Homo sapiens: one gene and its partners. The protein of the gene in region 3 purifies or fractionates together with the protein of the main gene of each other region. This does not show direct contact. Each region holds a gene or a part of one and is shown on either strand. Other genes may lie near its edges.

What was found.
Region 1: the proteins of GNAZ (region 3) and RGS10 purify together in Homo sapiens (affinity purification with western blotting, with the first as the bait; one study listed by BioGRID). This does not show direct contact.
Region 2: the proteins of GNAZ (region 3) and RNF123 purify together in Homo sapiens (affinity purification with mass spectrometry; 2 studies listed by BioGRID and IntAct, with this or other methods). This does not show direct contact.
Region 4: the proteins of GNAZ (region 3) and RAP1GDS1 purify together in Homo sapiens (affinity purification with mass spectrometry, with the first as the bait; one large-scale study listed by BioGRID). This does not show direct contact.
Region 5: the proteins of GNAZ (region 3) and SYNGAP1 purify together in Homo sapiens (co-immunoprecipitation; one large-scale study listed by IntAct). This does not show direct contact.
Region 6: the proteins of GNAZ (region 3) and MTHFR purify together in Homo sapiens (affinity purification with mass spectrometry; 3 studies listed by BioGRID and IntAct, with this or other methods). This does not show direct contact.
Region 7: the proteins of GNAZ (region 3) and ITM2B purify together in Homo sapiens (co-immunoprecipitation; one large-scale study listed by IntAct). This does not show direct contact.

The regions. Positions count from the first base shown.
Region 1 is NC_000010.11:119,511,720-119,515,219, forward strand, and holds part of RGS10 (regulator of G-protein signaling 10), read right to left. Parts: intron 1-3,500. UniProt on the Homo sapiens protein: Regulates G protein-coupled receptor signaling cascades, including signaling downstream of the muscarinic acetylcholine receptor CHRM2.
Region 2 is NC_000003.12:49,713,557-49,717,056, reverse strand, and holds part of RNF123 (E3 ubiquitin-protein ligase RNF123), read right to left. Parts: coding exon 3,470-3,500; intron 3,320-3,469; coding exon 3,232-3,319; intron 3,148-3,231; coding exon 3,060-3,147; intron 2,968-3,059; coding exon 2,883-2,967; intron 1,483-2,882; coding exon 1,343-1,482; intron 1,236-1,342; coding exon 1,047-1,235; intron 956-1,046; coding exon 880-955; intron 665-879; coding exon 580-664; intron 229-579; exon of another isoform or gene 1-228. UniProt on the Homo sapiens protein: Catalytic subunit of the KPC complex that acts as E3 ubiquitin-protein ligase. Promotes the ubiquitination and proteasome-mediated degradation of CDKN1B which is the cyclin-dependent kinase inhibitor at the G0-G1 transition of the cell cycle.
Region 3 is NC_000022.11:23,094,519-23,098,018, reverse strand, and holds part of GNAZ (guanine nucleotide-binding protein G(z) subunit alpha), read right to left. Parts: intron 2,773-3,500; 5' UTR 2,324-2,772; coding exon 1,601-2,323; intron 1-1,600. UniProt on the Homo sapiens protein: Guanine nucleotide-binding proteins (G proteins) are involved as modulators or transducers in various transmembrane signaling systems.
Region 4 is NC_000004.12:98,411,384-98,414,883, reverse strand, and holds part of RAP1GDS1 (rap1 GTPase-GDP dissociation stimulator 1), read right to left. Parts: intron 1-3,500. UniProt on the Homo sapiens protein: Acts as a GEF (guanine nucleotide exchange factor) for the Rho family of small GTP-binding proteins (G proteins) that stimulates the dissociation of GDP to enable subsequent binding of GTP.
Region 5 is NC_000006.12:33,447,565-33,451,064, reverse strand, and holds part of SYNGAP1 (ras/Rap GTPase-activating protein SynGAP), read right to left. Parts: intron 3,236-3,500; coding exon of another isoform or gene 3,223-3,235; coding exon 3,132-3,222; coding exon of another isoform or gene 3,129-3,131; intron 2,277-3,128; coding exon of another isoform or gene 2,262-2,276; exon of another isoform or gene 1-2,261. UniProt on the Homo sapiens protein: Major constituent of the PSD essential for postsynaptic signaling. Inhibitory regulator of the Ras-cAMP pathway.
Region 6 is NC_000001.11:11,788,965-11,792,464, forward strand, and holds part of MTHFR (methylenetetrahydrofolate reductase (NADPH)), read right to left. Parts: intron 3,416-3,500; coding exon 3,314-3,415; intron 2,363-3,313; coding exon 2,243-2,362; intron 1,935-2,242; coding exon 1,716-1,934; coding exon of another isoform or gene 1,576-1,715; 3' UTR 496-1,575; coding exon of another isoform or gene 306-495; 3' UTR 80-305; coding exon of another isoform or gene 1-79. Other genes in the region: uncharacterized protein C1orf167, read left to right, coding at 1-79. UniProt on the Homo sapiens protein: Catalyzes the conversion of 5,10-methylenetetrahydrofolate to 5-methyltetrahydrofolate, a cosubstrate for homocysteine remethylation to methionine. Represents a key regulatory connection between the folate and methionine cycles.
Region 7 is NC_000013.11:48,257,206-48,260,705, reverse strand, and holds part of ITM2B (integral membrane protein 2B), read right to left. Parts: intron 2,581-3,500; coding exon 2,470-2,580; intron 1,910-2,469; coding exon 1,759-1,909; intron 1-1,758. UniProt on the Homo sapiens protein: Plays a regulatory role in the processing of the amyloid-beta A4 precursor protein (APP) and acts as an inhibitor of the amyloid-beta peptide aggregation and fibrils deposition. Plays a role in the induction of neurite outgrowth.

The DNA of each region.
Region 1 (3,500 bases), on a different chromosome or scaffold from region 3:
AGGCTCACTTATCATGTCACTGTCCCACAGCACAGGGATGCCCATGGTGCGGCGTGTGGCAATGGAGGTCCCCACGCCCAGGCTCAGGCCTCGGTGCTGTGCTTGTACTCAGTGTCATTTCTGTGTCCTCCCTAGCTGTCAGTGATCACCTCTTGCTGCTCATCACTCCATAGTCTCTACCACAACTTCAAATCTGCTATGAATGGAAAAACCTGTTAGAACTGTGTGCAAACCAAGAATAAACAGGACCTGACTGAAAACTCTTGAAGCTCTCCTTTAAACAGGGTGCATGGGAGTTGGCTCATCTAGCCTGGGGCTCAGGGAAGATTTTCCCGTTCTTCTAGGTTCCAGCGGTGCCCTACAAAGTCAGAGCTGCCCTACTAGAAGCTCAGAGAGCAGCGGAGCCGCACGTGGTGATGAGGGGCTAAGTTCGGGGGCGGCGGTGCTGAACACAGGAAAGCGGCTGCTCTGCGGCTCCACCATGAAGCCCAGCAGTGCTCAGCAAAGCCAAAGCCGCGGGAGAGGCTTTTGAAAGTTCCGTGAAATCTTGTGGCTCCAAACATGTTCCCCTCAGCTTCAATCTCCTTCACTTAGGAAAACAGAGCTCTCGAGGGAGCCTTTGCAAGAAAAAAACCGGGGCTAATGCTGAGCACGCATTTTGACAGTTACAGCAAGGCCCCGGAGAGACAGAGTTTTCAAAGCAAAACGGAACACAGGGGCCCTTCACATGGAGACTCACTGTGAAATCGGCTCTGATTCCAAATACCTTGTTTTCACCCAATTATGCCTTAGGAAGAAAGTTCGTGGATCTTTCTCTCTATGCAATTAAAAAAAATTTTTTTTTTTGAGGTGGAGTCTCACTCTGTCGCTCAGGCTGGAGTGCAGTGGCACTATCTCGGCTCAGTGCAGCCTCAGCCTCCCAGGCTTAAGCAGTTCTCCTGCCTCAGCCTCCCGAGTAACTGGGATTATAGGCGCCCACCACCACGCCTGGCTAATTTTTGTATTTTTAGCAGAGATGGGGTTTCGCTATCTTGGCCAGGCTGCTCTGGAACTCCTGACCTCAGGTGATCCACACGCCTTGGCCTCCCAAAGTGCTGGGTTTACAGGCGTGAGCGACTGAGCCCAGCCTTCCAATAATAGATTTTTAACAACAGAGTATAACAGTACTTGCTTTACATTCAGCAGTTTGGACTGCACATCTGTTTGGTGTGCATAAACATATACATTATTATTACACTTATTAGGCCACATCTGTTAGGGGCATGTGCATATGTGTATTTATAGAAAAAAAGATGGAAAGTCTACAGATAAAATACTATTTGGTGGTTATCTCCAAGTGTGCAATTATGCAATAAAGAAATGATTTCTTCTTTATATTTTTGTTTCCCAAGTTTCTTTTGCTGAGCATGTGTGATGCTTACAGTTGGATAAAAACTATTTTAAAAAATTTTTCTGAGGCTGGGCCTGGTGGCTCTTGCCTGTAATCCCAACACTTTGGGAGTCCAAGGCTGGAGAATTGCCTGAGCTCAGGAGTTCAAGAATAGCCTGGGCAACATAGCGAAAGTTCATCTCTACAAAAAAAATACAAAAATTAGCTGGGCATGGTGGCACACACCTGTAGTCTCAGCTACTTGGGAGGTTGAGGTGGGAGGATCACTTGAGCCCGGGAGGCCAAGGCTGCACTGAGCCGGGTTCATGCCACTGTGCTCCAACCAGGGCAACAGAGGGACATCCTGTCGCAAAAATAAAATAAAATAAATAAATAAATAAAATTCTTTGTCATTAAAAAAGAAAAAAAAAACAATCAGCCTCTGTCCCCTGTGTTTCTTCCTTTCTGTGCTGGCTAAGCCTCCCACTGAATGAGTCTAAGGGGCACGCCTACTCATAAGGTCCAGCTCCGTTCTGAGCTGTTGGGCAGGCGGGCTGGATCTCTCAGAGCCTGCAGTGCTACCGCATGGAGTCAGAACTCTCCCATTCCTCATCCTACCTTGGCTCCCGCAGTCCTGGGAAGTGGGATGACCTGCATTCACAAAGCCTTTCCAATCCCTCTGCTCCAGGGGCCTCACCGAGCTTTGAGAAACAGCAAGAGGCTGCCCAGGAGCCTGGCAGAGCAACACAGGCCATGATGGTCATGGGGGGAGCATGGTCTTTGAAGGCAGATGGACAAGAGGGAATCTGGCTTCCAGCACTTTTGCTCCCTGCATGACTTAATGCTAAAAAAAACACTTAATCTCTCTGAACCTTGCTTTTCTCATCAGCAAAATGGGAATAATAACACTCATTGGAGATAAAATGAGACAATACACACCAAGTGTGACATCAGGCTCAAACGGGCAGTCCTAAATGGTAGTTAGGGCCAGGCGTGGTGGCTCACGCCTGTAATCCCAGCACTCTGGGAGGCCGACGCGGGCGGATCAGTTGAGGCCAGGAGTTCGGGACCAGCCTAGTCAACATGGTAAAACCCCGTCTCTACTAAAAATACAAAAAATTAGCCGGGCGTGGTGGTGTAGGCCTGTAATCCCAGCTGGTAGGGAGGCTGAGGCAGGAGAATCGCTTTAACTCAGGAGGCAGAGGTGGCAGTGAGCCGAGATCGAGCCACTGCACTCCAGCCTGGGCAACAGAGTGAGACTTCGTTTCAAAGAAAAAAACCTGAAAAGGCCAGGTGCAGTGGCTCACGCCTGTAATCACAGTACTTTGGGAGGCCAAGGAGGGTGGATCACTTGAGGTCAGGAGTTCGAGACTAGCCTAGTCAACATGGTGAAACCCTGTCTCTACTAAAAATACAAAAATTAACTGTGTGTGGTGGTGGGCGCCTGTAATTCCAGCTACTCAGGAGGCTGAGGCATGAGAATCGCTTGAACCTGGGAGGCGGAGGTTGCAGTGAACCAAGATCAAGCCACTGCACTCCATCCTGGGAGACAGAGTAAGACTCGGTATTAAAAAAAAAAAAAAAAAAGAACAAAAACACAGAACCAAAAGCGAAATGGTAGTTAGTGTTGTCATTACTGAGAATACCTAGAGCACAGAGGTCAGTACAGGTTCGCAACCCTGGCTGCACTTTCAAGTGCCCTAGGGAGCTCTGACAAGATTCTGAGGTCCAGGGTGGGGTCGATATCCTCATATGGCTACAGTCACAAAAACTGCCTTTTCACCATACATTCCACTCCCTTTCCCAGCGCAAATCAATGCCCATGCGTCCTTCCGACTGGCTCAAATTCACCACTTCCAGGAGGCCCTCCGCAAGTCTCCTTCAATAGCCAAATGTGAATCAGAATTCACATGGAATATGCTGCCCAATGCTAACCTTTTCATTATGCCTCAGGGGCTACATGATGAACTATTAATAGCTTACAGCATTAGGCCACCAGAAGTATGTGGAGGTGTCTGGATATTTGCACAGAAACAGCCTGCCACTTTGAGTTCTCCTGCTTGCTTTCTGGAGTTTTCCGTCTATTCTTACCTTCAGCAATTATAGGTTGCTTTCTCAGTACAGGCTCCTC
Region 2 (3,500 bases), on a different chromosome or scaffold from region 3:
GAGCAGGAGCCTCTTAAGGGCTGGCACTGGTCTCAGCCTAATGGCTGAGGCGGTACCCTGGCTTCATATGCATCTCACTGCTCCCACTGCAGGGGGGCAGGGAAGGGGGGTCTGGGAGCCCTTCATGTGTGGGGGCCGAGCTGGGGGCCCCCATGGCCATCCTGGACCTCGCTGCTCCAGAGTTTAATAAAGGTAGCACATGCTTATTGCTAGAGCCTTTGCAGACAATGGCGGTCCTCCGTGTGTTCAGCTCTCCTGGCGGCCTGGCCCTGTCCACCACAGGACGGCACACCCTCCGGAGTCCTGCCTCCCATGCCTGGCCTGAGGCATGGCCACAAGCCAGTGGCTCTGTGGGCCAGGGCCACCTGTCCTGCTGGGGTCCCAGATTCTCCTACTTAGAGCAGCTCCGTCTGCCCCCTATTTAGGCCGTTCACACCTCACCACCTTCCCTCTGCCTCAAAACCTGATGCTGAGGTCCATTTTCCAGATGAGGAAACTGAAGTACCAGGAGGCCCTGTCCAGCCCCTCCTCACCAGACACACCCAACTCCCACAGGGGCCCACGGTCCCCAACACTCACTCTGAGGCTGGGCCACGCACCAGGAGCTGCACCAGGATGCCCGTCACTGCCACCAGAATGGGATAGTGGTCCACGCTCTCTAGGCCTGAGGGGAAGGGGAGGAAAGAGATGAGCCACCCACATGCTCCTGCTTCAAGGGCTCCAGGCCTGCCCACTGCCCTCTCTACAGAAGGGTGAGCCGAGACTGCAGAGCACCAAGTCTGGCTGTCCGGGGGCAGAATGTGGAATCAGGCCTCACTGTTCCTAGCAGAGGAACCGAGGCCTGTAGTGTGTTGGGGTGCAGGGCATCTAGGTCCTCACCAGGCAGCCGTAGGGTGACCACACGATCAAACAGGTTCCTCTCAGCTGTCACCCGGTTCAGCACCTGGTTTAGCAGCTGTGAGGGGAGCAGGAGTCCATTGGTGGATGGGGAGCGTCATCAATGGGGCATCCCCAGGGTCCCACCCTTGTTGCCCAGATGGCCACACCTGTGCAAGACGCCGCAGCAGCATCTCAGAGGTAGGCCGGGTCCAGTCAAGGAATATCTCAGGCACCAGTGTGATAGTCATCTCCAAGACACGCAGCAGGCTGACCGAGAGGTCAAAGCAGGTGGCACATACCTTGAGCTGCCGGCTGTCCACAAAGTTCCGCTCCAGGCGCTCAGCAGCCTGCTGGATCTGAGCCACCAACACGTGGGCATGCAGTGGTCAGCACCTGGCTCTAGCCCAGGACCAGGCCTCATCCCTTGCACCACCCTAACCCACGAGGCCCCACCACAGCCCACCTCTTGGATCATGCCAATGAATTCAGAGAAGGCCCAGTTGAGCTGATTGAGGACGCTGTTGAGGAAGCTGGGTGCCACATCAGGACCCTGCTGTAGGAGGTCCGCCATGTGCTGCTGCAGCAGGGTGGAAGGGCAGGGCTCTGCAGGGGGACAGGAGGCGGCATCATCAGGGACTCCACTGCAGTGGCCTCTGCCTGTTTGCCTCTGTCCTCGCCCATTGAGGCTTTGGTATAAGGACAGAAAGATGGCTCCCTAGGAATGCTCAGGTCATGAAAGCAGGGGACAGAGGACAGCTGCCTTGGAGTTAGTTGGGACAGAATCTGTCCCCTCCTTCTACTAGGCAAGCCCCAGGCTGCAGCTGTGTCCAGCCCTGACACCACACCATCCACTCCAGGTCCAGAGCAGCCACACAGCCACAGCCTGACCCTCAGCAAGTTCTGGGTCGCACACCCTTCAGATAGGGTCAGACCTAAACAGGGCGGCTTAGATGCTTCCCCACCGGCACCAAGGCCAGCTCCTCCAAGAGCCTACTCTAAGCCCTGCTGCAAACCTGCTGTCCTCTACTGTCCTCTGCTGCCCTTGGCCTGGCCTTGGCATATGGCCGAGGTGGTGGGCACCAAGTCTGGGCTGGCAGGCAGCAGTAACCGGAGCCCTCAGCTGCAACGGGCCTGGCGCACCTCCCCACCAGCTTGATACAAATCAATAGTTCCCGCAGCAGCAGGACAGGCCTGGCCCCACTGCCGCTCTCCACTTGCAGCTCAGTTCCGCCCTGGACGCAGGACCACGGCAATTGGCAAGGACTTGCTGTGTGACTTAGCAGAAGACACTCAGCCTCTCTGGGGACACCCTTTGGACCAAAACACTGCCCACAAGGGCAGAAACAGACTACATGAGCCAAGAAGAGCCACCATGAAGGGTGAGGACAGTGTGTGGCACACCTGGCACTCTGCAAGGGCCAGGCCTAGGGGAAAGTCCTTGCTGGACCCTGGAGAGAGGGCACAGCCTCTGCTCCCAACTAAATGTCCCTTCCTCCAGGAACTCTCGTGAATACCCTCTGGGGACCTGGCCAACCTCCAATCTGTGCTCCCAGTGGACTCAGGTGTCCAAGGCCTAAGCCAAGGCCAGGGTCTGCCACCAGCAGATAGCAAAAAAGAAGCAGAAGGACATGGTGCTGGGACAAGGCTGGAGGTCAGGGAGCTAGCTTAAAGGGCAAGGGACAGAGTATTCAGTCTGCATGAGCTGTAGCAGGCCAGGAACATGGTGCCGCCTCTCACCATGACCCACATAGAGCATCCAGGCCCAAAGGGCACATGTAGGTAAGACTGTGGGCAAGGCTGGGGAGGGGGAGTCCCATCCCGAGTATCCTTGGGCTGGAAGGAAGCAGGGAAAGTGGAAACCCCAGGGGACACGTAGGGAGTCTGGGACCCAATGGGGGAACCAGAGAGGGGCTGGAAGAAGTGGAGAGTCTGAAAGAACCCATGGGTAGGAGGTAAGCGCCCCCGCCTGCCTTGCCCAGGACTCGCCCAACCCAGATACTCACTCTGGAGGCTGGGCAAATTGGCGTCCTCAAGTTTGGTTTTCAGCAGATGTGGCAGCCGTGTATAGCGGTACCCGAAGCCACAGCCCTGTGGAGGTGGGGGTCAGTGCCCAGGTCAATGGGACAGCGCACCCTCTCCCTCCAGCCAGCCTCAGCCACTTCCCCTCGAGTCAGGCTTACCCTCCAGAGCCGCACCAGGATCCAGTTGGTCTGGGCCCAGGGCCGCTGCTCATAGGGCGCCAGGAGGTTCCTCACCATGGCGATACGCCTGTGAGGGCAAGGAGGGGAGAGACGGGGTGAGGCTGGGCATGGTGCTTGTGGCCAGGGTGTGTGCCCCCCAGGCCCCACTCACTGCTCCTCGGGGATTCGCTCCACAGCCCGCAGGGAGTGTGGGTAGCACACGTAGCTGGCCAGGGCCTGCATCAGTGAGTCTCGGATGTCTGCGGGGACACACCGTGCCTCAGCAGGGGCTTGGCATGAGCCCTGGACCCATACTTCATGCCCACCTGGCCACATTTTTCATAGAAGAAAGCCGACCAGAGGTGCCATCCCATCCCCCTCCCCCTGTACCCTCTGTAGGGGCCCCTCACCAGTGCCCACAATGCGTGCGTCGGCAAAGTG
Region 3 (3,500 bases):
CTCCATGAAAAACTGGACTGACTCAGGACCCAGGTATCCTGCCTCCTGTGTCCAGCACACCTGTGGGCACGGCCTGTCAAAGGATGCAACTGGGAGCCAGGCCTGGTGCCCGGGGAATTTGCCACGCCTGCCACTGTGGTGATGGGTGAGGCCAGTGGCGCAAGCCCGTGTGACTGGCAGACCCACCATGGCACTGTCCCAAGGGTCTGGCCTGAGCACCTCACTTTGCCTTGCAGCTTCTCAGCCCCAAGCGCTCTGCCCACGGCCATGCCTCATCAAGGGAGCCTGACCTCACTCATCTGCTGAGATGTCCCCTCTGCCCAGAACCACACATGGGGCTGAACTTGTGGCAACCACAGGGTAAGGGGCCAGAACCCTGGAGAGCACACAGATACACACTGGGAACAGGGTGGACGCAGCCGCCTGCGTACACACCTGCCTGCCCGTCCGTCATTCGTTTCCCCCAGGCACACCATCAACACCTAGGCACAGTTCCAGGGAGACCCCTGATGCGAGGAGGGGAGGGAGGCAAGCCCGCCTCCCCAGCTGCCTGAGGAAAGCCAAAGATCCTCTCTCTCAGAACACTCAGGCTCCTAGCACCATGGCCACTGCCTAGAGCTGTCCAGGTTCCCTGGCTGGGGCACAGGTCCAAAGCTAGAACCATTGTTGCTCTCCGCTGAACCTAAAGAATAAAGCTTGCCTTAGGACTGGGTGAAGCAAGGAGTGACCTCGGAGGCCAGTGCTCCCAAGTGGAGAGGCTGAGCCCTTGTCTCCCAGCATCACCCTCCCCTAGCCCCAGGGTACCCACAACTTCGTGACTCCTTGTTTGCCCCCACTCCCCCATCCCCAGGGTCAAAGGCCTCTCTCTTAAGGGCAGACTTGAAATCTGTGCTCAGGGAATCCTGCTGGGCAAGACAGCCCCTCCCTTGCCTGCCACGGCCTCCACCGCTGCCACTCCTGGCTGTGGCCCCCTTCGTGTGCTAGACCTTCTGTCCTGGCTGGGCCTCAGCACACTGCCCTGCTGCTTCACCCGGCTCCCCACCCTCTCCAGCAACTCCACTCTCAAGCCCCCACCGCTTCACACTGGGTCCAGGTCTCCCTCGGGCTGCGCCCATGCCACTGTGAAAGAATCCCAACACCTGCTTTTACGTCGTCCCCTTTCCACCAGGACCTGGGATTATCCCTTCTAAACAGCTCTTAACCCCATCTCTGCCAGATTTGCAGACTCAAGATGGGGTTGCAGGGGTGGCTGCTGTTCCTGGACCTATATGCTGGTAGGAGACTGGTGCTGGCAGGAGCTTCATGGATTTGCCAAACTATCACATGGATTGATCATGGATGCCCGGCGGAGCCTCACACTCTCTTGCCCTGTGGCCTCCACACCCTGAGTACTTCAGGCATGGGACATGACACCTGCACTCCACACCCTGTTCCCTCTGCCCCCACCTTGCTGGAGCTGCCTCAGTTATCGTGCAGCAGGGCCAGGCCTGCGCCTGGTTCCCTTTCTGGCTGCAGACTGTCCTGGACCTCACGAGTCCTCTTGCTTCCAGGAACCCACGACAGCAGGAACAAGCAGAGGAAAACCCCCGGCCCCACTTACTGTCTGGTTATCCTCGTAGAGTTTCAGGTCGTAGCCGCTGAGCTCCACACAGAAGATGATGGCTGTGACGCCCTCGAAGCAGTGGATCCACTTTTTGCGCTCTGACCTCTGCCCCCCCACGTCCACCATCTTGAAGGTGAGCTCCTTGAAGGTGAACTTGTTCTCCACAATGCCCGTGGTCATGTCCCGGGAGCGCAGGATGTCCTCGACAGTGGGGATATAGTCAGCTGCGGCGATGCGCTCCAGGTCGTTCAGGTAGTAGGCCGCGTTGTCCTCCAGGTGGTACTCGCTGGAGCGGCTGAAGCAGGCCTGTGCCCCTGGGTCGGCCCAGAGCCGTCGCATGACACCCAGCAGCTCGGGTGTGATCTCGCCCTTGCTCTCAGCGGGGCCCGTCAGCGCAAAGAGCTGCACAGCGTCGTAGGCGCGGTCGGGGTTGTGGAAGTCGATCCTGAGGGCGGCCAGGGCCCGGATGATGCGGGTCAGCGAGTCGATGGCATTGTAGATGATGAGGGGCTTGTACTCCTTGCAGGCCTCCAGGTTGAAGCCGCCGCTGTGGATGATCTTCATCTGTTTGACGATGGTGCTCTTGCCTGAGTTGCTGGTGCCCAGCAGGAGCAGCTTGATTTCGCGGCGTTGCCGCTGGCTCTCTGAGCGCAGGTGGCGGTCAATTCTCCGGGACCGCCGGGCTGCTTCTTTTTCCTCTGAGCTTTGCCGACATCCCATGGTCTGGCAGCAGCGGGCCCAGACAAGGAGCACGGGATGGGGCACCTCTCCCTCTTGCCACAGGGGACACTGAGACCAGGCAGACAAGAGCCCAGCTGCCCTGGAGGCACTCAGTGCCAGCAGGGGGGTGAGGCCGAGCCACACTGCAGCCCCTGCCCCAGCGCCTCTTCTCCAGCCGGCATGGCGCTCTGTGCAGCGGGCGGTGGCCGCCCCTCCCCACTAGTGACACTCCACCTCCCTAGTTGGCAAAGTGGCCTGATTTGCCGTAGTCATTCCCTGTCCTCGGCGACGGTGGGAAGCCGTCCGCTTGTGTTTGCCTCGGCTGCTGCCGTCTGGTTGCTGGTTGCTGTGGCGATGTTGCTGAGTGGCTGGAGGGTTGGAGGGCCGGTCGCTGGTGTGCTCCCTGCAGCCCCCCGCCTCCGGCTCCCACTGTGCATCCAGCCCTTCACCTGCCAAACACAGAGAAAAGCGTGAGCCTCCTCCCCGCAGCCCCACCTCAGGCTGGACAGTGAAAGGGAGCTCTTCTGAAAGCAAAGCAGCAGAGACTGGCCTTGGAAAATGAGCCGGCAACAATCCATCCAACCCCCTCTCCTCCATGGGGCGCTGTAGGGCCCACACCATGGTGTAACACATATGTCTGCTGTTGCCTGGACAGTCCACCTGAAGCCAGGTGCATGAGGGAGAGGAGGGTGTGTGCGAGGCCTCTGCCCACCCAGCCCCCATGCTGGACTCACTTCTACCGCATCCAGTTAGGATTCAATAAGGTCACCCTGTTGTGATGCCCCCTGGGGCCCTTCTCCCAGACAGCACTGATAGAGCTCAGCCTTGCCCTGTTTTACACGGGTGGCCAGGCCTCGGCCCAGCCCTGGGATAACTGAGCGCCTCCCTGACTCTCATTACCCCCGCAGGAGCTGGGTCACTTCTGATCACAGGGAGGAAAAGCACCAGGAGGGAGACCTGGCCCCTGCTTTCCCTTGAGGGCACTCTGATGGGCCAGCCCAGGAGCCAGCAGATAGGCAGGGACCAGAGCAAGGTGGAGGCTTCAGGCTGTGGGAGCACCGTGAGGTGCCTAAGCACAGTGGGCAGGGGCTGCCTCACTCCTGCAGAAGGAGGTAGAGGGGGGCTTGGGCTGAGACCAAGGAGCTGGGGGCTGCACGTGGTGCTGCGGGGAAATCCA
Region 4 (3,500 bases), on a different chromosome or scaffold from region 3:
AAAGAGGATACAAACAAATGGAAGAACATTCCATGCTCATGGGTAGGAAGAATCAATATCGTGAAAATGGCCATACTACCCAAGGTAATTTACAGATTCAATGCCATCCCCATAAAGCTACCAATGACTTTCTTCACAGAATTGGAAAAAACTACTTTAAAGTTCATATGGAACCAAGAAAGAGCCCGCATCGCCAAGTCAATCCTAAGCCAAAAGAACAAAGCTGGAGGCATCACACTACCTGACTTCAAACTATACTACAAGGCTACAGTAACCAAAACAGCATGGTACTGGTACCAAAACAGAGATATAGATCATTGGAACAGAACAGAGCCCTCAGAAATAATGCCGCATATCTACAACTATCTGATCTTTGACAAACCTGAGAAAAACAAGCAATGGGGAAAGGATTCCCTACTTAATAAATGGTGCTGGGAAAACTGGCTAGCCATATGTAGAAAGCTGAAACTGGATCCCTTCCTTACACCTTAGACAAAAATCAATTCAAGATGGATTAAAGATTTAAATGTTAGACCTAAAACCATAAAAACCCTAGAAGAAAACCTAGGCATTACCATTCAGGACATAGGCATGGGCAAGGACTTCATGTCCAAAACACCAAAAGCAATGGCAACAAAAGACAAAATTGACAAATGGGATCTAATTAAACTAAAGAGCTTCTGCACAGCAAAAGAAACTACCATCAGAGTGAACAGGCAACCTACAAAATGGGAGAAAATTTTCGCAACCTACTCATCTGACAAAGGGCTAATATCCAGAATCTACAATGAACTCAAACAAATTTACAAGAAAAAAACAACCCCATCAAAAAGTGGGCGAAGGACATGAACACACACTTCTCAAAAGAAGACATTTATGCAGCCAAAAAACACATGAAAAAATGCTCATCATCACTGGCCATCAGAGAAATGCAAATCAAAACCACATGAGATACCATCTCACACCAGTTAGAATGGCAATCATTAAAAAGTCAGGAAACAACAGGTGCTGGAGAGGATGTGGAGAAATAGGAACACTTTTACACTGTTGGTGGGACTGTAAACTAGTTCCACCATTGTGGAAGTCAGTGTGGCGATTCCTCAGGGATCTAGAACTAGAAATTCCATTTGACCCAGCCATCCCATTACTGGGTATATACCCAAATGACTATAAATCATGCTGCTATAAAGACACATGCACATGTATGTTTATTGCGGCATTATTCACAATAGCAAAGACTTGGAACCAACCCAAATGTCCAACAATGATAGACTGGATTAAGAAAATGTGGCACATATACACCATGGAATACTATGCAGCCATAAAAAATGATGAGTTCATGTCCTTTGTAGTGACATGGATGAAATTGGAAATCATCATTCTCAGTAAACTATCGCAAGAACAAAAACCAAACACTGCATATTCTCACTCATAGGTGGGAATTGAACGATGAGATCACATGGACACTGGAAGGGGAATATCACACTCTGGGGACTGTGGTGGGGTGGGGGGAGCGGGGAGGGATAGCATTGGGAGATATACCTAATGCTAGATGACGAGTTAGTGGGTGCAGCGCACCAGCATGGCACATGTATACATATGTAACTAACCTGCACAATGTGTACATGTACCCTAAAACTTAAAGTATAATAAAAAAAAAAATAGTAATACCCTGGGGAAGGAATTGCATTCCTGGGGGGAGGTCTATAAATGGCCGCTCTGGGAGTATCTGTCTTATGCGGTTGAGATAAGGACTGAAATACGCCCTGGTCTCCTGCAGTACCCTCAGGCTTATTAGGGTGCGGAAAAGATCCCGCCCTGGTAAGTTTGAGGTCAGACCGGTTCTCTGCTCTCGAACGCTGTTTTCTGTTGTTTAAGGTGTTTATCAAGATAATACGTGCACAGCCAAACATAGACCCTCATCAGTAATTCTAATTTTGCCCTTTGCCTTGTGATCTTTGCTTTGCCCTTGCCTTGTGATCTTTATTGCCCTGTAAAGCACGTGATCTTTGTGACCTACTCCCTGTACACTCCCTCCCCTTTTGAAATCCCTAATAAAAACTTCCTGGTTTTGTGGCTCAGGGGACATCACGGACCTACCGATATGTGATGTCACCCCTGGAGGCCCAGCTGTAGAATTCCTCTTTTTGTACTCTTTCTCTATTTCTCAGATGGGCCGACATTTAGGGAAAATAGAACATACATTGAAATATTGGGGGCTGGTTCCCCCAATAGATACACCTTACTCATCTTTGTATCTTAACCTAAACTGGCCTATCTAAATGCTTTGAGTGTAGTTGATACTCCTTAAGATAAATGCTAGTCAACTCACCTGAAAAATACATTTGCAACACAGATTTTTTGTTTAAGAGACAGTGTCTCGCTCCGTTGCCCAGGCTGGAGCGCAGTGGTATGATCATAGCTCACTGCATCCTTGAACTCCTGGGCTCAAGCAATCCTCCTATCTCAGCCTCCTGAGTAGCTGGGACTAAAAGTGCATGCCACCATGCCTGGCTAATTTTTAAACTTTTTTTGTAGAGACAGGGTCTCACTATGTTGCCTAGGCTGGTCTTGAACTCATGGCCTCAAGCAATCTTCCTGCCTTGGCCTCCCAAAGTGCTAGGATTACAGGCATGAGCCACTGTACCTGGCCAGAAATTTTTAAATTTAAACTTTATTTTTTCAGTTGGATTTTATTTTAGTCATTGGTTTCCCTAAGCTGTATATGCATCCATATATGGCAATGGCAGCTTCAGCTTATCATTTAGGAAAAATAAAGACTTTTAAAAATAAATACTTAAGACTTTCAGGCAATTTTAATGTGTTAAAATTTGGCTTTTTTGAATCACTAGGATCACTGATCTTCTTTTGAATATTATCTCAGAATACACAGAGTATTCAACCTGGAATATTTCTTTAAAAGGTACACTTGTACTGTGCCATGCTAAAAGTAGGGCGTTTCCTTGGTTACAGAATGCTAGGGCTAGAGATGTGTGGTGACTAGAATTAAAAACTATGATGAAAAAGCCTTAAAAATACTAAAATCCTTGAACTATACAAATCCCAACTTCTAATGCTGAAATCACTCTCCTTCGTGTACTGGGAAAATGAAGGATGATACATGCAAAGAATTAGTCCAAAAACAAGCCTTCAATGGTATCATCCTATCCATTGTGCAATTATAAAACAGATGTGAAGGCAGAGGGGAAAACAGTAATAAATATCAACACATTGTTATTTTGAAATACTGCAAGGAAAGTTATAGGTTATTTTATGGCCTAAAATTGACTGAAGGTCACAGTAAAATTTTTACTTTGCCAAAACACCAATGAGATAAAAAACAAATTTCTCCCTAAGAAATAGGACCTAAGACATTTAAGAAATTTTAAATGTGTCAATATTGTAGTTTTAAAATTTTAATTAATTTTTTTTTTTGAGACAGGGTCTTGCTGTGTTGCCCAGGTTGGTCTTGAACTCCTGGCTCAAGCAATCCTTCTGCC
Region 5 (3,500 bases), on a different chromosome or scaffold from region 3:
ATTTCATTAAATAGACACTGTCATTCCGTTTGTCACTTATTCACAGTGGCCATCTTCTCAAATATAACATTCCAAATTAGAGAGAGGTTTAACTGTACTGGGGGGAAAGGAAGGGGATTCAGGGAAGTGATATGGGAAGGGAAAAATCTTGTGGGAGGGCTGCCCCTCTCTCTCACAATTATGGCGGAAATGACTAGGAGCTTCTGCAGACACAGCATGCCCCAATCTCTGCATCCCTGGGAAGCAGAAACTGGCTTTATTCTTTTCCACTCCCATCTTCTTTTCAGTCCTTCTCCCTGGGCTCCCAATTAGAGGGTGAGGGGTACCAGACCAGCTCCTACCCCTGGTTCTACTCTCATCACCTCCTATAGCTCCTTGACCAACTCCTGGTTCCTGCCCTTAGCTCCGCCTTCTGTTCCTCTGCTGGGAGAAAAGAAAGCCATCTGAATTTCCCTACGCTTCTGGTTGGGAAATTCACTTCCTTCTCTCTTTGGCTGTTGTAATTATCTGGGGTTTGTACTGTACATGTCCGTGTGTGTGTGTGTGGGCTGGGGGCAACACTTGGCTTTTTAAAATTCAGGCTCAAAACTAATTTCTAATTAATGGCTGAGTTGCAGAGAGACCAATACCTACCACAAGTGGTTTAGAACAAATGTCCAAATTATTTCCTGGGCCACATGGCATTTAGGCTTGGTAATATAGCTATGTCTGACCTTAGGATACAAAACCTTCCAAGTAAAAGCTTCTATATAAGCTCTCCCTTCCATCCTAGGATCAAGGAGCTAACCTCTCAGATCACCCAAACCCCAGCCTTGGGTATGAGATACCCAGCAAAACTGCCTTCTTAGCTTGCTGGGTATCTCACACATTTTCTGCAAGTCAGTGAGAGGAAATCACTTATGGTAGGGTATCCTGAGTATGGCGGGAGAGCAGGGAAGGAACCCCCAGATTCCATTCCCTCTGTTTGTCTGCTGGTGACAGCACATAAGCATGCCCTGGACACCCCCATGGACCCAAATTTAGAAAGTGGATAAATTAGGGTGCCATTATTCATTTTACAAAAGAATTCACTGCAGGAGTCCTTTAAATGGCAAAGTCCCCTGGTGCCTTTTAGCATCTTTATAGATCACCAGCTACTTTGACAGAGAGGCTGGGCAGGCAGAGAATTAAAATTACAGTGTAAGGAGCCACTGCCCACTGCAGCTCAATCCCAAAGAAAATCGCATCTCAGAAATGATGGCTATAGCTGACAGGTTCTCATTTACTGGCTTTTTAGGTAGGGTGATGTGTCCGGCAAGGCCACTCGATGGCAGGAGAGGGGGAGTGAGTGGCATCAGCAACCTGGGGATGTGAGCTGTGAAGAGTACATTCTTTACCATGCTGTTCCTGGCACCTCTCCCTGGGAATCAACATGCCTACTGAGCCCACGATCTGATCTAGGAGGATGTCTCTCCCCATTTCTAAACTCCCAGGCCACATGATCAAGTCCATGTCCTAACATCTGCCTGAGGTTCCTTTCTTGCTCCTTCTTGTTCCATCCACCCTGCCTAATGTCAGGACATCTCAATAGCATTTTTTCCAGGGTATCTCAAGTCTCCCTGAGTTAACTACCCACTCCTAATTCCCACCCAATGGGGGCTAATATGAGCTTCAGATGCCTTCTGCCTCACAGATATAAGGAGGAGGAAGAGAGAGAATCAGGTGAGGAGTGGAAAGGAGGGTAGAGAACCAAGATTAGGGAAGGAAGAGGGAAACCCAACCTACCTGCTGCAGTCAGCACAGCCCCTATAGCCAAGATCCTCCAACCCATCATTGCCTCCACCCCATTAACAAACCCACCCCCAGCCCCTAAGGACGCTCTGGTGAAATGGGGGGTGACAGACATACACTGGAGAGGTAGAGGAAGAGGAGGGCTTAGAGTCAGGAGGAGGCTGGGAGGGGGTGGGTTTTGCAGGGAAGTGGGTGTGACCTGTGAATGTGCTGGGCCCATCTAGGGCCCAACTCTTGGTGTTGCTAAGGTATTGTTGGACAGTTCTGGGAAGCAGCAGCAAATGCTCTCTTTGGGTGGTGTCTTGGGAGATGGATCTGTGCAGGTGTCGGAGGGCTGGAGTCTGTGGAGGTTCTCTGGGTGTGGAGGGCAGCAGTGAGAGGGGAGAGGCTCCGGAGGTGTTGGAGGGAGTGGGCTTCACGACCAACCTGCAGTGGTCCGGAGTCACCTCCCCCTGTGTCCTCCGCCCGTGGCCAAAGCGGAACCAGGAGAATTACCTGATGAGGAGCTGCAGTGGGAGAGAGTGGGGTCATGGGGTCAGGAGCCTTGGTGGGGGGATGGCAGGCGGGGGGAGCCTAGCAGTCAGAGCAAAGAGGAGTATGGGTAGGAAAATGAGCAGAATTTTGGGAAAGCAAGGGGTAAGGGTGCAGAAGGGAGGTCCTAGAAGCTGGCTTGTGAGAAGAGAGGCTGGGCAGCAGGCAGCTGGGAAGGTCTGAGGGCCAGAGTGGGAGGGAGGCCAGAGGGAGGCTGGACTTAAATACTGAGGGCAAAGGGAGGTTACAGGATGGAAGGCCTTCAAGATCTGAAGAGTCAGGAAGAGGAAGCTATGCAGGAGCTGCCAAGGAGACAGGAAAATTAGGGAGCCAAGAGAACAGAGGTGATGGGTCCCCAAGTTTTCAGGGTACCGGCCAGGGCCTGGAGAAACTACAGATCATACTGCCCTGTGCTCTATTCCAGAAAACGGCAGCTTCTAGCCCTCTGGCCCAAGAGCGCAGAGGAAGCTGAACAACGTGGCTTGAATAGGAGTGAGCAAAGAAGGGGCAGGGGTTCTTGGAACTAGGTGGGGTCTAGGGGCAGAAAGACCAAGGTTCTGGTAGAGAAGGTCCTGAGATGCAGAGAGGAGTGGGAAGACTGGATGGGAAGGCACAGGAGTTGGGCTGACGCTGCCAGGAGTGACAAAGGCACAGACGATGGGATGAAGATGGGGTCACTAGGGGGCTGCCAGGAGCAGCCAGTGGACAAACAGCAGACTATGAGAGACAGATGGTGATGGGGCTAGGTGGCTGGTGTAGTGAGTGCACGAAAGACAGTGGGATGGATGGGGATGGGACACGGAGAAGATAAATGACATTGTAATTTCCACCTGAGCGTCGAGCAGCCTCTTCTTGGGTTCTGGCAGCGGCTCAGCCATGGCGGGGTGGTCCCGGCGCAGCTCCTCCTCCACCAGCATCAGCCTGAAGGGACGGGCTTCAGTGGGGTTAGTGGCGGGCACAGGCTCAGAGCCTGCCCATGGAACCCCATAGCTCTCTGGAAAAACCTCAGGCATCCTTATCCCTTAGAATCAGAGTCCCTCCATTGCCGTGATGCAAGACTCCCTGTTCCTCAGGATCATGCTCTCCACCTTCCTCCCAGGAACCCTTACACCTCCCTGCTAAGGCAGCTTTCTGTGCCTCAAAGACTTCTACCATCCAGACACCTCCAGGCCTCCATCGTCCCAATCAGGACAGCAGTG
Region 6 (3,500 bases), on a different chromosome or scaffold from region 3:
GGTCCATCAGTTTGCGAAGAAGGTGTGGCATGAGGCATGGCTGCCACTCACACTAGCCCATGGAGGGCCTGGGTCCTGAGCGCCCCCTCCCTCATTTGCTCTGCTCTGAGTACAGCTTCCCAGCTCACCATCAGATCTATTCTGAGCTTGTGCATTTGGCCTAGGCAAGACTGGCTGGCTGCTTGGGGCAGAGGGAGGGGCCCTGGGGACAAAAGGAGCTGGGTACAGGGGTTGCTCTAGCAGGCACAGCACAGACCCCGGAGAAAGCCCACAACAATAGCATTTCCTCTCCTCCCTGGTTCCAGGCCTTTAAGAAGTGGCACCAACGCCTGGCAGCCAGGAGCCCAAGGAGAGGAGCTGCCAGTAGCCCAAGACCCTGGAGCAAGCCAGGCCCCAAGGGCCCCGAGAGTGGACAGGAAGCCGCCAGAGCACCGCGGGGTTGGGGGCTTGGGGCAGAGCATGGGGCCCAGCTGCAGCTGTGACTTGTTCTCATAGAATAAAAAACAGAACTGAACTTAGCCTTCCCAGGGAAGGAACCATGCCCCACACATCCAGGGAGTGATGACAGAGGGGACAGCTTGAAGAGCTCTGAAGGACAATAAAACCCACTCCTCAGTCCTAGCTGCTGCTTTCAGTCTCTCCTAGCGGCTGCCCCTCTGCCCCAGCCAGTGAGGCCAGGAAGGGAGTAAAGAGGACATCCCACAATTGCGTCCACCCCCTTGGCCATCAGGCTGCTCTTCCACTACACGAAACAGCCCATCTGCACCTGCCAGTCACTGCCCCCAGGCCCTGGGGCTTGCAGGTGACTCGTGGGGAGCCAGGCCAGGCAGATAACCTCTGGGACAGGACGAGGGGATGAGGAAGGCAGCTGGCAGGACAAGGGCCTACCTGAAAAATACACCAGGAAGCTGGGCTGCTGCACAGGCCCAGGCAGATCTGGGGCCCCTGTGCTGGCAAATCTCATCTTAGCCTCTGACAGGGAACGGGGCAGCATCAGGCCTCCACAGCCAGGCAAAAGGGGAAGGCCACGAGCCCCACCAAGCACAAGGGTTCAGACTGCCTTCAACCCTTAAGGGGCACTTTTTCTCTCAAGGCTCAGAATAGACAACTGTGCCAAAAAGCAGCATGGTAGGTGTCAGCCCAATGCCCATCCAGGGGGCTGGTGCCATGGACGGCTAAGTGGGCAGGCAGGGCAGTGGTGTGCCCCTTCAGTCACAAGTAGGTGGGGCCCAGCTGCCCACCTCTAGGAGGTGGAAGGGTACAGCACTTTGCCACATCTCTTCTACGATGCCACCAGTGCCTGATGCCCTTGCGTGTTTTGCCTGTACTGCACGGGCTCCAAGTGTAAGTTCACTGGGAGTCCCAGGCTGGCTCTGGAGGCTGCCTTGGTTCGAGGGCTTAGTTGGCAACAACCACTCTCCTCGCCTTCTCAGGAGGTGCCACCCACTGTGGTCCTCTGCAGGACGCAAGTGCTCCCCACCAAAAGAGCACAGACTCCTGGCTAGAGCAGAGAGTACTAGGTTCCCATGTGGGGCCGACTCAGGTCCAGGAAGAGCCTGGAAGCCTCACTCCAGTCTAGCTGCCATTGTCAGGTGGGGGAGTGGAGGCCGGGGTGGGAGAGACACGAAGGAGAGTGGAGTTCCCAAGAGAAGCAGCACTGTGGAGGAGGAAGGCGGGACAGGAGTGGCTCCAACGCAGGGCGTCAGGACGCAGGGTCATGGAGCCTCCGTTTCTCTCGCATTCTGGGTGGGCCTGTTGAGAAGCTCCAATGTGTCTTCCACCACCTGCCAGAGGCAGTTGTCCAGTGGGAAGTCATTGTCCACCAGGTTGACCAGGAAGTAGTTGTCGTGGATGTACTGGATGATGGTGCGGGACGGGGACTCCTCCTCATACAGCTTTCCCCACCGCTCAATCCACAGGGCAAAGGCCTCGTCCTACACACACATACCCCCGCACACACGCACACATGCACACACACACAGAGGCAAGATTAACAGGGCTCTCCAAGGGCTCTGCTCAACAGGACATTTCCCGGAATAGAACAAGGCCCACTGCCAGTATCACTTCCCACCCCTGCCCAGAAATAAACACCCTGCATCAGCAGTGACATGGGTGAGTCAGAGCTGGGTGTGCCCTGAAGGCTGGGTCCAGTGTGGCCTTCAGCACACGCTTGGGACTTGGTCCCAATCCCTCCCCACGGTTTTCCAGGTGGGCGGGGCAAGCTTGCCCCCGGCTCCTTTACCTTCCAGAACATGAAGCTGACGGGATCCACTACGGTGGGCTGGATGATCTCTCGCCCAGGGAAGATGCCCCAAGTGACAGCATTCGGCTGCAGTTCAGGGGCATTGGTGATGTTTTCACCCTGAGGGGATGTGGGGTGGGGGTAAGACCTGGGCCAAGAACAACTGGAGTCCCACTGCCTGGACAGCCTTGACTCAATGAGGCTGTCTGGGCTCAATACCCTCTGCCTGCGCCTCCACTCCCGGCCTCCACTCTCCCTGCGCCTCCACTCCCCTCTCCCTGTGCCTCCGCTCCTGGCCTCCTCTGCCTGCATCTGTGAATGATATCTCTCCCCACACAAGCCTGAACCTAGAGGCGTCCTGGCCACTTCCCCTCTCCTCCTTGAGCACCCCCTGCTCACTCTCTGATCCATTCCCTCTTGTCTAGCCCACCTCCAGGAGTGTGTTTGGCTTGGGTCACTCCAGGGGTCTCTTCACTGGCCTCCCCGGCTCTAGCCGTCCCCAATCTCTCTCATCCGTATGACTATCCACTGTGATTTGCCTAAAATAAAGCAGGAACCAAGCCACCCCACTGCTGGAGAAAGGCTTCCCTTGCATTGAGGGAAAACTCAAATTCCAGCAGGACAACCATGATCTCTGCGGGCCTGGCCCCTGCTTAACACTCCCGCCTCCTCCTGCTCATGTTCCCCGTTTCCCCAGATGGTGCAGCTCACTGCCTCTGCCTGTCCTCTGCCCTGTCCCAGGAATACCCTTCTCTCCTGTTGGCCAACTCCTCTTTGTCCTCAGTGATTCCCACAGATGACCCTCTGAGAAGCCTTCCCTGGCCTCCCAGGTGAGATATCCCTCCTCTGGACCCGACAGCATCCTCTCCTGAACTTGATTTTCCCACTTACACTGGCTGGTGGTCACACATTGATCTGCCTCCCTCACTCTAGGCTGGGAGCTCCTTAAGAGCAGGGCCCCAGTTCTGCCTGTATCTCTCTGTCTTGCACAATGCCTAGCCCAGGCTAGGTGCTGGGTGTTTGCTCAACGAAGGGCCTGGTACTCTGTGGGAACCCTGGGGCCTGGCCTACCTTCACATTGACAAGGTGGTAATTAACCCGGAGCTCGTACTTCTTCAGCACTTGCAGAAGTGCTTCCGCTGTCTCGCGGGAAGTGAAAAACTCTAAGTAGGCCTGTGGGAGAGACAGGTGCCTGTCACCAACCCCAGCCCTGCCAGACGCCCTTTCGCAGACACCTAAGGTATCAGGACTACTGGCA
Region 7 (3,500 bases), on a different chromosome or scaffold from region 3:
GAAATCATGTCCTTTGCAGCAGTATGGATACAGCTGGAGGCCATTATCATAAATGAATTAACACAGAAACAGAAAACCAAATACCTACCTTACAATGCTCTCACTTATAAATAGGAGCTAAACACTGGGAACTCACTGACATAAAGATGGGAATGATACATACTGAGGACTATAAGGAAGGGAGGGAGGGAGGGAGGAGGTAAGGGTTGAAAAACTACCTATTGGGGAACGCTTTTACACTGTTGGTGGGAGTGTAAATTAGTTCAACCATTGTGGAAGAGAGTGTGGCAATTCCTCAAGGATCTAGAACCAGAAATACCATTTGACCCAGCAATCCCATTACTGGGCATATACACAAAGGATTATAAATCATGCTGCTATAAAGACACATGCACATGTACGTTTACTGTGGCACTACTCACAATAGCAAACTTGGAACCAACCCAAATGTCCATCAAAGATAGACTGGATTAAGAAAATGTGGCACATATGCACCATGGAATTTTATGCAGCCATAAAAAAGGATGAGTTCATGTCCTTTGCAGGGACGTGGATGAAGCTGGAAACCATCATTCTCAGCAAACTATCACAAGATCAGAAAACCAAACACTGCATCTTCTCACTCATAAGTGGGAGGTGAACAATAAGAACACATGGACACAGAGAGGGGAACATCACACACTGGGGCCTGTCGGGAGGTGGGGGCCTAGGGGAGGGATAACATTAGGAGAAATACCTAATTTGGTGACAGGTTGATGGGTGCAGCAAACCACCATGGCACCTGTATACCTATGTAACAAACCTGCATATTGTACACATGTAACTCAGAACTTAAAGTATAATAAAAAAAAGAAAAGAAAAGAAAAACTACCTATTGGGTACTTTGCTCACTACCTGAGTGATGGGATCATCTGTACCCCAAACCTCACATCAGATAATATACCCTTTGTAACAAACCTGCACATGTACCCCTGAATCTAAAATAAAAGTTGGAAAAAAAAAAAAAAAAGAAATCAAGCTGGTTTCAGATGACTCAACCGCCGGAGATGAGAGAACAGTATTATTTAAAATGCTAGCAAAAAGCCAGGAAAGCACTTTTACTGGGTGACACAATTCCAAAGAAATCACACCACAGTGTATCTGAATGGCACTTCTTACTTTCCACAGCTGCCACATGTACTTTCTTTTTATTTTCACAATGCTCTTAAAAGGAAATGGGGAGATACTGTAATTCTTATATTTCAGGTGAGAAAATAAAAGTTAAATGATTTGGCAAAGCTACAACATTAGTTGTATCAATGCTCTTAGTTCTTCACCCAAATTCCTTTCCAACTACCCTGACAGTGATTATTCCCAATATGATCCAAAAGGCAAACAGCCTGCTTAGAATCCAGATCCCTGAAAACACAGCTGAAGAGCTGGTCCCAAGACACCCTCTGGATAATAAAAACCCTTTCAGTATGGCTCAACCAAAGTGGTAGGATGGGAAGTTGGACAGGGTGACTAACTAGATGGAAAATGAGGTACCATCATCTCAAGGCAATGACATTTCACATTGACCTTTTCTCTCCACCTGAAAAGAGTGGACTTACTAAATGGAATTAAGATAATTCTATAGAAACCTGGAAATATTATATAACGACACAATATTACCTCACTCATGGCAGGTATATTGGTAACAATGACTAGGCTTCACCTAAATCTAGTTTAATGCAATGAACTTTTCTGCCCAACACTTTAATATTTAAAAAGTATTACCTTTAATAGTTTCTCTGCGTTGCAGTTTGTAAGTTTCCTTGTCATGACACAGTCGATAAATAAAGAAACCCAGGTGATCAATGTTTTCAATGCGATCAGTAATAACCATGTGCTCATGAATCAGATAGGACTGAGGCAAATAGGTTCCAGCCTACATTCAGAAAAGAATACATGACATGACTATCTCAGAACATACACTGAGTAGACTAGAGAAACAAGACAAAATTCTTACACATTATGGTATGGAACAGGTTGCCAAACTACTACCCACCATCTGTTTGTTTATGTTCTCACTATGTTGTCCAGGCTGGTCTCAAATTCCTGGCCTCAAGCAATCCTCCCACCTAGGTCTCCCAAAGTCCTGGGATTACAGGCATGAGCCACCGCCCCCGGCTTGTTTTTATAAGTAGAATTTTTTTTGGAATATAGTCATGTTCATCTGTTTTACGTATTGTCTATGGCACCAGAATTAAGTAGTTGGCTAATATTTACTCCCTGGCTCTTTAGGAAAACTTAAAACATTATTTGAGAAATTTATTTCAATTTCAAGATATAAAACATTAAAAACAAAAACCATGAGTATTAGTTCCTCTTTGTAAAATTCTTAACTACAGTCTGATAAAATGGGCTCCTATAGGGCTAATTTCTCAACAGGGAATTCCAGAACACTATGAAGGCATCATTCATCAAAAACAGTCAACATTCTTATACCTTGATGTTAATAAGTAACTCCAGTAGGTTTCTGGGTGGCATAACAATGGAAGTGTTCAGAGGGATCACATAGCACTTATCCAGGTTAAGATCTAAATAGGCTGTAAGTTTCTGGGAAGAAAAAGATACAGTGTAGTTACAGTAATACTTGCAAAAACAGGCAGCAACTGGATTTTTAAGAATAATTTGTATCATTAAAATGAATTGGCTTTAGAATGTATAAATCACTTGCATTTCAACAAATTCAGAATTTGGCTGGATAAAGTTGGAAGTGGGAATGGGAGAGGAAAAAATATTGCTACCAGTAAATAAAATGCTCATCGAGGGTATATTTCTATAATAAGTAATAATACCTATTCAAATTAACTGCAAATACTTATTATATAATTAAGCAATTTAACTTCCCCACTTATAAGCTCAAATGCCCTCTAAGGTTATCTGTCCATTGTTTGTAAAGATTAAATTTTCTCATATGTATCTTGAATACTACCATCCTTAGAACATTAGAAAAACAGTCATTTAAATGATTTTGTGTTCTGTGGTTCAAATGAGAAACGCTGGTTGAGAAAGACTGTCTCATAGAACGGTTTTTAAGAATAACTTAAATCAAATAATGTCAACATTTTGATTCCTAAGAGCTCAGTAAGTGTTAACTATTATTATTTACTATTTGCTTTGGAAGTTTATTTCCTTGAAATAAGTAAATTTTCAAACTGGTTTATAAACATCCATCAGATGTATTTATCAGGCACGAAATGTTTGCAAAGCTAACTTCAGTAATATATTCGAGTGTTCAAAATGGCAAGCTTACAGAGAGACATAAAAATCACAGGTGATACATGAACTTCTGAATCTCTGAATCCTGATTTGAAAAAACAAAAAATTCTTGGGACAAAAATTGGGGAAATGTAAACATAAACAGAAATGTAAACATATTAAATACAGTAGTCCCTCTTATCTGAGGTTGTGCTTCTCGAGTTTCAGTTACCTTTAGTTAACTACAGTCCACAAATACCTAGGTGAGTACAGCA